Linked DNA regions of Homo sapiens: region 2 is linked to region 1. Evidence: fine-mapped expression QTL. A gene starts in region 1. The other region holds a variant in brackets. All regions are shown on one strand. Distances are between the middles of the regions.

What was found. PIP is the estimated chance that this variant, and not a neighbour inherited with it, causes the effect.
Region 2: its variant is fine-mapped to the expression of KLHL29 in whole blood (TOPMed, PIP above 0.99).

Annotation. Positions count from the first base shown.
Region 1 is chr2:23,381,840-23,387,205 of GRCh38, reverse strand. KLHL29 (kelch like family member 29) reads right to left here and starts at 2,027. Exons shown (of 14, transcript NM_052920.2): 1 at 1,426-2,027. It overlaps LINC02923 (long intergenic non-protein coding RNA 2923), which reads left to right. Exons shown (of 6, transcript NR_187213.1): 1 at 1-5,366. RefSeq lists silencers at 141-190, 361-530, 551-670, 911-1,770, 1,941-2,290 and 1 more and an enhancer at 3,794-4,088.
Region 2 is chr2:23,529,645-23,535,010 of GRCh38, reverse strand. All of the region lies in intron 2 of KLHL29 (kelch like family member 29), which reads right to left. It overlaps LOC105374325 (a long non-coding RNA gene), which reads left to right and starts at 4,703. Exons shown (of 2, transcript XR_939831.2): 1 at 4,703-5,366. RefSeq lists an enhancer at 1,958-2,017. The variant A/G (reference allele first, on the strand shown) is at 2,159.

The DNA.
Region 1 (5,366 bases):
AGCAGCTCGGCGTCCTCCACGGTCTGGTCCCTCCAGCGCCGAGGTCTCGCCTAATGCTACATAAATACCTGCGTCCACGATTCGCCCGGGGCGCGCCGCGGCGCAAGCACGGGAGGGAGGGAGGAGAACGTTTGCAGAGCGGCGGGGATGGCAGCGGCGGCGGCGGCAGCTCCTTACCCATCAGCATCTCTGGGGGCCCGCGCGAGGGCCCGCCAACGGACCGCGTCTGCCGCTTGGTTCCACAGCCCAGGGACGACAACTGGCTTCTCAGCGGGTGGACCCAGGCATCCGAGACTCGCGCGTGGCCGCCACCCCCTCCTCCGAGACGGCTGGCCGCAGGCAGGCAGCGCGTCCCCGCCTTCCCCAGGCAACGCAGAGGCGACCTGCCCTAAGAGCCACCTCCGACCTACCCCGGCTCCCAGCCCCGCGCTCCGGCCCCAGGCGAGCACGTCCCTCCCTTGGGGCCCGGGGCCGACGCTGCCCAGCGCGGGCACCCGCGCGGCGACCGCAGATAACCCTAGCGCTCTCAGCCCGCTCCAGGCCACGGAGACCGGGACGCGAGCCCTGGGCTCCCCCGGCCCCCCGAGGCCATCGGGGCGCGCGTTCACACTCCCACACTACACATCTCCAGGTCCACCCTGTCCCACACATCAACAACCCCTCCCCAACGACACCACCTCCTGGCCGCTTCGCCGTCCCCGTGAGCTCTCCTTTCCGCGTCCCCCCACAACACGCTGGCACCCACAAGGTGTCAAGGGAAGTGTGCGTGTGTGTGTCGGGGTGGGGTGGGTCACAATAAGGTCTGTGCGGGTTCCCTCCCGACGGTTTTCGAGCTCATCTACCTCGAAAGTTACTTGGGATTGAGTAAAGAGACCCAGTCCCCAAATGCGAGATCAGAGGACGCGAGGGGCAGAAAACCCCAACCTGGCTTCTCGCTGCACAGAGGCGCGCACCTCCCCAAAGGACAGTGCGCGCGGCCGCCCCTGGGGGCCAGCCCTCCGTCGCCTCCAGGTCTCCTGCCCGGCCGGGGCCCTGGGCCGCTCAGGGGAACGTGGCCTGGAGAGGGGCGCGCGCCGCCGGGCCCAGCAGGGGGGCTGCTCCGGCCAGGGGTCACACAAGCCTCCAGCACCTCCGAACACCGTGACAGTGGCCCCAGGCAGCCCCGGTGCATACACACCCGGGGGCAGGAAGTTTTTTCCCCCCCTTTTTTTCCCCCTGGAGCAGCGCAGGCGCAAGGGCTCCTGCAGCCTGCGAGTCCAGACGCGGGAGGCTCCTGTCGCCGCCGCCGCCGCCGAAGCCGAGCCCAGGGTTCCGGGTTCCGGCCCCGCTCCCACGCCCGGCCCGGCCCGGCCCCACGCGGCGGCCAGGACCTGGGTCTCCCTCCGGCGCCGCATCCGAGGCGCTCCAGCCCGGCCCGGCTCTTACCTCCGGCGCGCGGCTCCGGCCCCGGCCCGACGCGCAGAGAGCCCGGGGTCGCGGGTGGGCGCAGGAGGGCTGATGGAGAGCGGACAGCGCCGGCGGGTAGCGGTGGCTGGGGCCGCTCGGGTCCTGGCCGGAGGAAACGGATCCAGGTCCTCCTCCTCGCGTTCCTGCTCTCCGCCTTCTCCCCTCGTTCCTCCTCCTCCTCCGCCGCCGCCGCCTCCCGGCAGCCCAGGGAGGATGCCCGGGAGAGGGAAGTCGGTCCTCCTGCCTGTCAGCCTGTGCGGCTATGAGCGGTGCGGCGCGGCTCTCATCGAGGCGGCGGCGGCGGCGGCGGCTCCGGCAGCATCGCCCCCGCCCTCTCCCCGCAGCCGCGGCGGCCGCGGGGCTGGGGCTGGCTCCGGGCTCGCGGCTCGGGCTCCGGGCGGGGGCTGCGCTCAAGCGCGGCGACCGCCGGGGCTGCGGACGGGCGCTGCGGAGCCGGGGCCGGGGCTGGAGCTGCGGCGAGATCCGCGGTGGCGGGGACGGCGGCGGCGGCGCGGGGGCTGGCGCGGCCGCGGCGCGGGGACCATGCTCCCTTCTGGCTCGCTCCGCTCCGGGTACCGTCTGCTTTAGCTGCGAGGGAGGCGGGCTTCGGCGCGCAGCCAGGGGCGGGCGGAGCCAATCACGGGCGCCCGAGTGGGCGGGGGTGGCGGGTGGGGGAGGCGGGGCCCTCTGGCCCGGCCCGGCCAGGCCGGGCCCCGTGCGCAGTTTCCCCGGCCCGAGGGATTCCCGGCTGCCGCGCGCCGGGTCCGAGGTTGGAGTGCTCGCGGGTGTGTCCGTCGGTCCGTCCGTCCGCCGCCCCCGCCCCCCGCGGTGGCCCCCGGCTCGCCTGGCTCCGCGGCCGCGCCCGGCAGACGCACGGCGCGTGGCACGGGCTGCTCCGCCGTGGCCTCCTGGCCTTGCTGGCCCAGGGTTGGGGGCCCGGGACTGAGGCGAGCTCCCCGTCTGCTCTCAACACCTGAGGAAACTGGCGGAAAAGTTTGAGAAGGAAAAAGTCCAATCGTCTTTCAGCTTCCGCCCTCTTTATGACACTCCAGCCTTGGAAAGGAGCAGGAATTGTCCACACCTCTGAAGGACCAGGGAGAGCCCTGCAAAGTGTCCACCAGCCTTCTGAGTCAGCCCTGCCTCTCCTGGGGCGCGCGACTTTTCTGTTCATACTGACCCTTAGGAATCCAGGAAGCCTTCTCTGTTTAACAGCCTGACCAGCCTTTGATGTCTATACCGACTACTCACCCCCACCACAGCTCGCTCTCTCTCACACTGTCTACACTGACTTCTCAGTCCCACCACCTCTCGGTCTACACATGCTGTCTACACAGACCCTAACTTCTAACCCTAATAGAAGAGATTTGGCCAGAGGCGTGTGGGACCCCCAATGAGGGCTTTTCCATTATGCTAGAATATTTCACTCTGGGCACAGTCTTCTCCACCCCGACCGCTCTCCTAATCTGGTTTTTATTCCCCGACCTCTCCCTCCTCCCCTACATCCCCTTTACCTGGTTTTGAGTTTCAGAGGAAATATCTGTACCTGCCCTCCTCCTCCACCCCTGTCTGAATGTAAAGGCCTGAGGGCCCAATCCTCATCCTCCACCCTCCCTCCGCTCCCCCGGGTAAAGGCCTGAGGCCTGAGGCCTTGCTAGAAATTGGAGTTGGGGTGCTGTAGGTAGTGTGGGGAGCTGGCTGTGGGGGCCCAGCTGGGAGGAGCTGGCCTGGGGAGGGCTTTGCCAGTCCTTGCCTCCATCTACCAGGGCCAAGGAGGACTGAGCCGGTAAATATTTTCTTCTCAGCTCCCCCCCTGTGATGTCTGATCCAGGCCTCTGCTCTCCTTGGCTGTAAACTCAGCGCACGGATTGTGTCTTCTTTAATATTTTGTAGGAAGCAGAGTACAGTGTCGTGGCTGATAAATAATAAATAATAATAATCTACTGAGGGTAGCAGGAGCACTGTCAGAAATGGAATGAGGACGCCGGGGAAATGGCCCACTAGTGTCAGAATAACTGCATTTCCTGGAAAAAACATCCAACAGAGTTTGTGTGTGTGAAGCCCGGGACTCAAGGGAGGGGACAGAGCGGAGCACTTCAGGGAGGAAGCCACCCTTCATGAGGACGACAGCCAGGAAAACTGGCGTGACCTTAAGAGAGGGTGACAGAGGTGCCGAAAAGGGGAGCAGGAGTGGGGGGGAGGGGGAGAAAAGCTCCCCAAGGGTCCTCAGACAACACCTGAAGGTGATCGATAGCTTTGGTTTGAGTACTATGTCCTTCAAATGGTATATGAAAAGTGATAGAAGAGTACTAGATAGCAAAATGGAAAAAAGAGGGATTTCTTGGGATTTCAAATTGATACACAGGTCAACCCAATGCAAAAAGAAGGAGAACAAAGCCACAGGCGTGTGTCTGTTCATCCACGCTGTAGGAAGCTGTCCTCTGAGATAATCTCCATGGATGCACTGACTGTGAACATGCAGAAGTCCACCCAGCCGTATTCTGGAGTAGCGCCCTATGTGACAGCTGTAGGCACTACAGAAATGTGGCCAAGGTTTGCAGGGTCTGGGATAGGTTAAGATCTGGCAATGTGAGGCACTCACAGTGTCTTACAGATGATTTTGAATGATCCTCAGTTGAAAGAAGAAAATAGGAACTCCAAGAATCCTTATTCAGCTACCTCTCCAGATGAAGGAGAAAGGATGCTCCCAATTTCCCTGCTGGCAGCATCAGAAAAGAGAGCTGTGCTGAGGTCTTATCCAGAGGAGGACCTACTCGGGCCATGGTGGTGCGAAGGGCGCTGGTTCTGGGGCACCGCAAACTCTTCAGGGCTGAAGTTTGGTAACAGCTCACCAGGGGAGCCAGCTTGTCAGGGAGAATGAGAAAAGCTGTGTGAATTAGACTCCCAGTGGGCTTGTCTACCCTGTCCTCACCCATCCTCGTTTTATCCAAGGCTTCCTCGTCATTGATGCTCTGCCCTGCTGGGAGCTGTTTAGTGTGGACACAGCCATTTATGAAGGGTCTGCGCTGGTCTGCATATGAGTTCCATTTCAGAGTGCTGTTGTTCACATGATCTGTCCCAGCGCATCTAGTGTCTTGGCAACATAAACTGGATTTGCATTGTGTCAGGGGTCTCCTCTCTCTCTCTCTCTACGTAGATCTTGCTGGTGTCTGGGATCTTTTTTGGGTCATTCTTTGCTCTACTCTGTGGCCCATGGGATGGGCCCCATGACTGGCATGGATCTCTCTGTGTGGTTCATGGGACTCGTGTGTTGTGCCCAGAAACCTCTTACACCATGGTCAAAGATTTCTCCATGAAACACAGGATTGACTTGGTGGTGTGTTCTCCAAAAGCCAACCCTCCCTGTCCTGAGCCCCAATCTGGGCACTGGGATCAGGACTAATGTGTACACTCCAAGCAGATGGGTAGTGAAGGAGCGGACTCATAGTGCATAGGGAAGTGGACTGGAACACTCCAGGACATCCATTCCCCGCTCAGATCATAGACCATTATCTGTGCAGTCAATCAGACAAGGACTTGTACTGGAAAGGCCACCATCACCCAAGGAGGAACCAGAGGAAGTCACATCAGGAACACCTGGGGTGCCACATAAACCCACAGTGGCCAAGGTGGACTTCTGTCCTTGTCTGTGTTTATGATAATAGCCACAACAAAAGGACCTTTACCCAGTGGCTACTATATGTCAGGCACTGTACCAAGAACTCTACCCATGATATCTTGTTAATCCTCACAGCAACCTGTGGAATTGGTGTTATCAGCCCCCAAAACTGAGTTCCAGAGAGGGTAGATGAGAACCTGCAATCACACAGTAAGTGACAGTGCTGGAATTTCAGCCTGATTGTCCCAAAGCCTCTGTTCTTTTTACCCCACCAAACACACAAATGCAGTTTCTTTTGTCATTA
Region 2 (5,366 bases), 150 kb before region 1:
CCACCCCAATCATGATACAGACCATTTCCATCAGCCCAGAAAGTTCCTTTGTGCCAGACGCATTTTAGCAGCTGCTTTTAGGGCCAGTCGATACTGCTGCAGCATCAACAGGATTAGGGGATCCAAAAAGCCTGCAGGGGGTTCTAGGCTGTGAAATCCAAGATGCCCTCAGCTCTAAGTGACCAGAAAAGGCACTGTTTTTTCTTTCTAATTCTGCAGTTGACTAGTCACCCACAGTAGTCTGTCAAGGGAAGTTTTGAAGCACTGGAGCCTCAAAGAGACTGTGGGACCTCAGCTTCACTCAACAACTCAAAACACATCCACTCTATGAGCCTCTGTGCCATACACAGAGCTGGGCCCTGCTGTGGCAGGAAAGGGGCAGCTCAGTGTAGCTGGAGAGACACTGAGCAGAAGAGAAGGAAGACGGGAACTTGGGCTGGAACAGAAGTTAGCATCTGTGATGCTGCAAAGAAATAAGTCATTCTGGCTAAGGCCAAACAGGAAGGCTTCTCGGAGGTGGGGGCATTCATAGTAGCCTCTGAAAGGACGCAAAGGATTTCAATAGAAAACAATAAAGAGAGGAAAATTCCACGCTGGGAAGACATAATGTGTCAACAAAGGCATTGAGACATAATAACCATCACTTATTAAATGCCTGTTAAGGAACAGGCATTGGGCTAGGTGTTGCACAAATGTGATTTTATCTAATAAAAATAACAATGATGAGAAGGACCCTACAAGGTAAGTCATACTAACTGCAATGTGGCCAAGTGACTTCCCAGGTTCACAAAGCATTGTACCTGGATTCAACACCAGGTCTCATGATCTGAAGCCCCGGTTGTCCTGTTTCCTGTGCTGTGGGAAGAAACACGATAAAATGGGTGCTGCTCAGCGGGATGTCAGACAGGAATCCCTGGTTGCTTGGAAAGGCATCCCCGAAACCGGGGACTTTCAACTATTGGCGGGTCCTTACTTGGTTCAAATATCAATTAAAATATCAGGAGGACTATTACATACCCCAAAAAGAGCTGTGGAAACACCTCATAGCGCACACGTTTCTTTAAAAAAAAAAAAACAACAGACACCATAGGAAAGTCTCATGTATTTAAAATAAAGGGAGTTAATTAGTAAATTTGTTTTTTCTGAAAGCAGTCTTATTGATACAAAATAGCCCAAACCGGGTTCACAAAGGTTGAAAACAGAGTTAGCTTATAATTAGCATTTCAACTGTCCACAAGCGGATCTTCTAGATTGTCAGCACAAGGAAATTCTGTTCTCTTCATTGGCGTAAATGCCCCAATTCTTATTTACACTGTTAGTCCCGGGAGAGTGGGGGGTCCTCACACTGTTACAAATGCCATCACCCAGCCCAAACGCCGCACCCCATCTGCAGCTGCCAGGGAAGGAGCTTTCAGGGAGCTCCCAGGTCTCCCAGCTTTGATCTGCGAGCCAGCGCCAAGGCTCCCCAGAGGCTGCACAGAGCTGCATCTACGACCCAGGGCTCCTTGTTTTGCATCAGCTGCTTCACTCCCGGCAGAGGCTCACGTTTTCTCTGACGCCAAATGCCATGAATCCTGCTGGGCCAGGAGCTACAAGTCTCCACAGGACCCCTCCCTGCTTAGACCATCCCAGCTTTCTTTCCAAAGGGGGTAGAATGCCAGCCCCAGAGGGTGGGGGAACTCTCAGAAAAATACTTCCCTGGATGCAAGAGTCCGCATCAAACCCATGCCCTAGGACTAGCCCACAAGCAGCCACATCAGAAGGCACTGCTTACTTGTGCACACACAGATCTGCACACACTCACACATACGCATGGTTTCTCTGCTGCCTTTGACCCCCAGGCCTGCCGTATGTGTACACCTTTTCCTCCCCCAATATCTCCAAACCACTTTACGTGCTCAGGAAAAACTGAGAGACGCTCTCACACAGGGAAGCCACTGGTTGGCAGAAAATCCCTTGAACTCGTCAAAGACCAGGCCAGGCAGCACCTTCTGCTCCTCAGCTTGGGGGCCTGTGAGTTGCAGAGACGTAGAGGGAACCCTCCCCTCGGCCCCCAGGCTTTCTCACCGCCAGCTGAGCTCCTCCTCTCGGCCCACGTGCACACACAGCTGTGGGGCTGTCTCCCTTCTCAACAAAAGTTCGTCTCTCTCCAGTTGGT[A/G]GCCTGGAGCCGGGCCAATCCTCCCCTTACCCTGAACGCGCCTCGATTTGCAGAGGCCTGTGGCGAACAGTCTCCCTGCCCTGATCCTTCTCCCCGTGCAGAGGGTGTAGTGGGTGAGGCTGGGAACACACCTCCTCCCACCTGACACCCACCCCCATGCTGACCCCAAACCACAGGCCTCTAGTGAGCTCCCCACCGCCCAGGCCTCAGTCCCAAGTTAAGATAATCTTACAATCTTGTCACTCCAGTGGTGCATTCTTGAAGGAAGTGTTTTAGCTTCAAAGGAAAGTGAAAGTGAGATTTTAACATAGGAGCAAGAAAAAGTCTAACCTTGGCGATGCACATCCCACAAAGCTCCACTAGCAGGGGCCTGGGTGCCGCCCTGGGTGCTGCCCTGGGTGCAGAGGGTGCGTGGGCTCCCCATTCCCTTCACCAGCTCCCACCGTCTCCATTCTGCTTCAAGCCAAGCACACTGCAAACCAGAGTACTTTTTCTCCTTGCCAGTGAGCCGGTGTTGTCTATGTACTGCAGGAGGAGGCCATTACAGGGAGTTAATAGAGTTTTAAATTTGTTTTTAAATTTTACAATGCACTTCATCAAATTCAGTGTCTGAGCACAGCATCATGTTCAGACCAGGCAGCACATGTCAAATGGCCTCAGCCTTCCCCTCCACCCCTCTCCCACCAGGAAAGGTTAACTCTTTGGAGTAACTCCCAGGCATGGCCCCAGTGGAGCGGGTTCTGGTCTGTGGGGGGTCGTTGTGGAATAGGCCCAGTGGAAAGGCTGCTGACTTATTTGAGATGCTCTGGGCAGCTTCCATGGTCAAGGGCCGTCGAGGCTTCCACTGGGCCTTGGTCGTCCCGTTGAGGTCCCTTACTGAGGTGGCACTTGGGAGTCGTGGCGACTTGGTTCTTTCAGGTTCACATCTCTATGGTCCCAGGTGTCAAAGAGGGTGAGAAAGTATCCAGGGCACAGACGTGGAAAGCAAATAGTATAGTGCAGTCTGCTGATGAGGAACAGATGGGAGCACATTTCTGCTATTTTTCACCCAGAAGGATTTCCTTTAAGGACATGTTCAGCTGAACCTAGGATCATTATTGTAACTTGGGATCAGTTGCTGCGGAATTGGAAATAAGTGAGATTTATGGGCCCACGGTTTTGTGAAGAGCGTCTTGGGTACCAGGACTTGCGGCAGGTCTTCTCTGTCACTAACTGCAGTCAATCTGGCCTTTTATTAAGCTTTAATAAGTGACTCTGGTTCTAGGGAAAGTTCCGGAATAGATATTACTGGCAAGTGAAATCCCGTTGGTCCCAGGGCAGACTGCAATAAAGCAGCTCCGTCCTGGCGGCTCGGAGGCAGGGTCTCAGCTCACTGAGGCCACAGAGCCCCACGAGGGAGGCGGAGGGTCCCCTTGCCAGAGCAATCTGGTAGTGGGTGGGTGGGGGATGGAACTGATGGGGACGGTCGCCTGTTCTTCTCCCTTGAGCATCACAAAACTGAGCCTCACCCCCCAAATAGGTCCCATGTTGGCAGTGGTCTGCTTTTGAAACGTCCCAGGCAACAAGAACCCAACATGCCTGTTTTTGGTTAATGGAACCCACAGGGTGGCTGCACCCTGGTCCCAGCTGTCTGGCCACCACGTGGCAATGACTTTCGCTCACTATTTATTTGAAACTTGTCTGTACAGGTGACGAGGAGGAGACAGGCTTCTCAGCCAGGCTTCTGCCGAGTCCCAGATACAGTCCCAGCTTACCCCCTCTACCTCACTGTGCATCCAGGTGTCAACCTGAACTTTGCACTTCTTAAAACAAACATCCTACAGATAGAAAACGAACCCTTCTGTGAGGCCACACACCCAGTTAAACACCCCACCCTACTTTTCAACTCTGGGGAGACTCTGCCCATGTCTGCATCCTTCCAGACAGAGCTCTGTGCTCTGTGTATGGCTTCAGGTTTTCCATTTCTAAGTTCATACAGACACAAAGCTGGTGGGATGGGGCAAGAACCCTTGGTGGCCTCCACTCTCCTGAGCAGATTCAGAAGCAGATGCTAAGAACTGGGCCCAGGAGGGATGTGGGAGCTGGGGTGGAGCTGGGCTTGGCAGCTGGGCGGGGGCAGGGGATGGGCTGGGATGGAGGGAAGAGCATCTTGAGGTGATGGGAGTCTTTTTGCATTCAAGGGCTTGCTGGCTTCCAACTTGCTACTTACTGCATTGAAAAATATTCCACACGATGGAAGAACTATTTTCCAAAACAAAATGCTAGTATTCATCAGGAGGCGCGGGTTGTGCAGTGTGAACAATTCACTTTCGTTAAGTACCATATGGCCGCTGGTAGGAAAACGCTAACATGTTTCAACAGTACAGCTGGGGGAGGGCTCCTTTATTCACCGTGCAGATGGCTCTAATTGACATCTCTCCTAAAACAGGTCTCCAGCATTTCTGCAGGATCATTAGAGTAATTAGTTATTAAATACCATCACCACTTTTAGAGAGGGGGTCTGATCCTTGGCAACATTCCAGCGTGATGGAACTGACAGGTTGGGAGGACAAGCCGTGGGAGGGCCCATGGAAAGGGCTTACGAGCTCCTCCTCTTCAATGGCAAGGCCAGAAGAGGATAAAGACTTCGCTGATTCCAGAACAGCCTCCTGGAGAGAACTCAGGCACCCAGAGGGCTCTACGCCACAGTACTAGAGCCAGCCCTGCCTCTTTGGCAGTGTGACTGTGTACACCCCTCAACCACCCAGCCTCAATTTATTTATCCCTTAAATGGGGGTAATAGCAACTGCCCTTCCAGCCCTGCAGAACTGAAGCCACATATTGAAGAGCACATGGAAAGAGCCGGACTGAAGTGCCGCAGCTGAGCCGGTCCTGATGGCTGTGTTTGACACCTAGCTTGATCCATGCTCACCACTTTGGTGAGTGACAAGCCGTGGCCTCTCAGGACATGGGCACACCTGAGACTCAGTCCTCGATACTGCAACGGGCAAGCCTTTGTCATGCTGCGACCAGAGCTCAGTCTGCAAATGCGGCCCCCCAGGCTGTCTCAGGACGGGTGGCGGGCTCAGCCCTGCCTCCATGAACCCCAGAGCCAGCCCGCAGGTGGAGGCTGGTCTAAGCTAGGTCCTGTTTCTGTACTAGACCTATTATACTCTACTCCCCAAACCAGCCCTTGAAAACAGCCCTCACACCTGCCCTCACTCGCCTC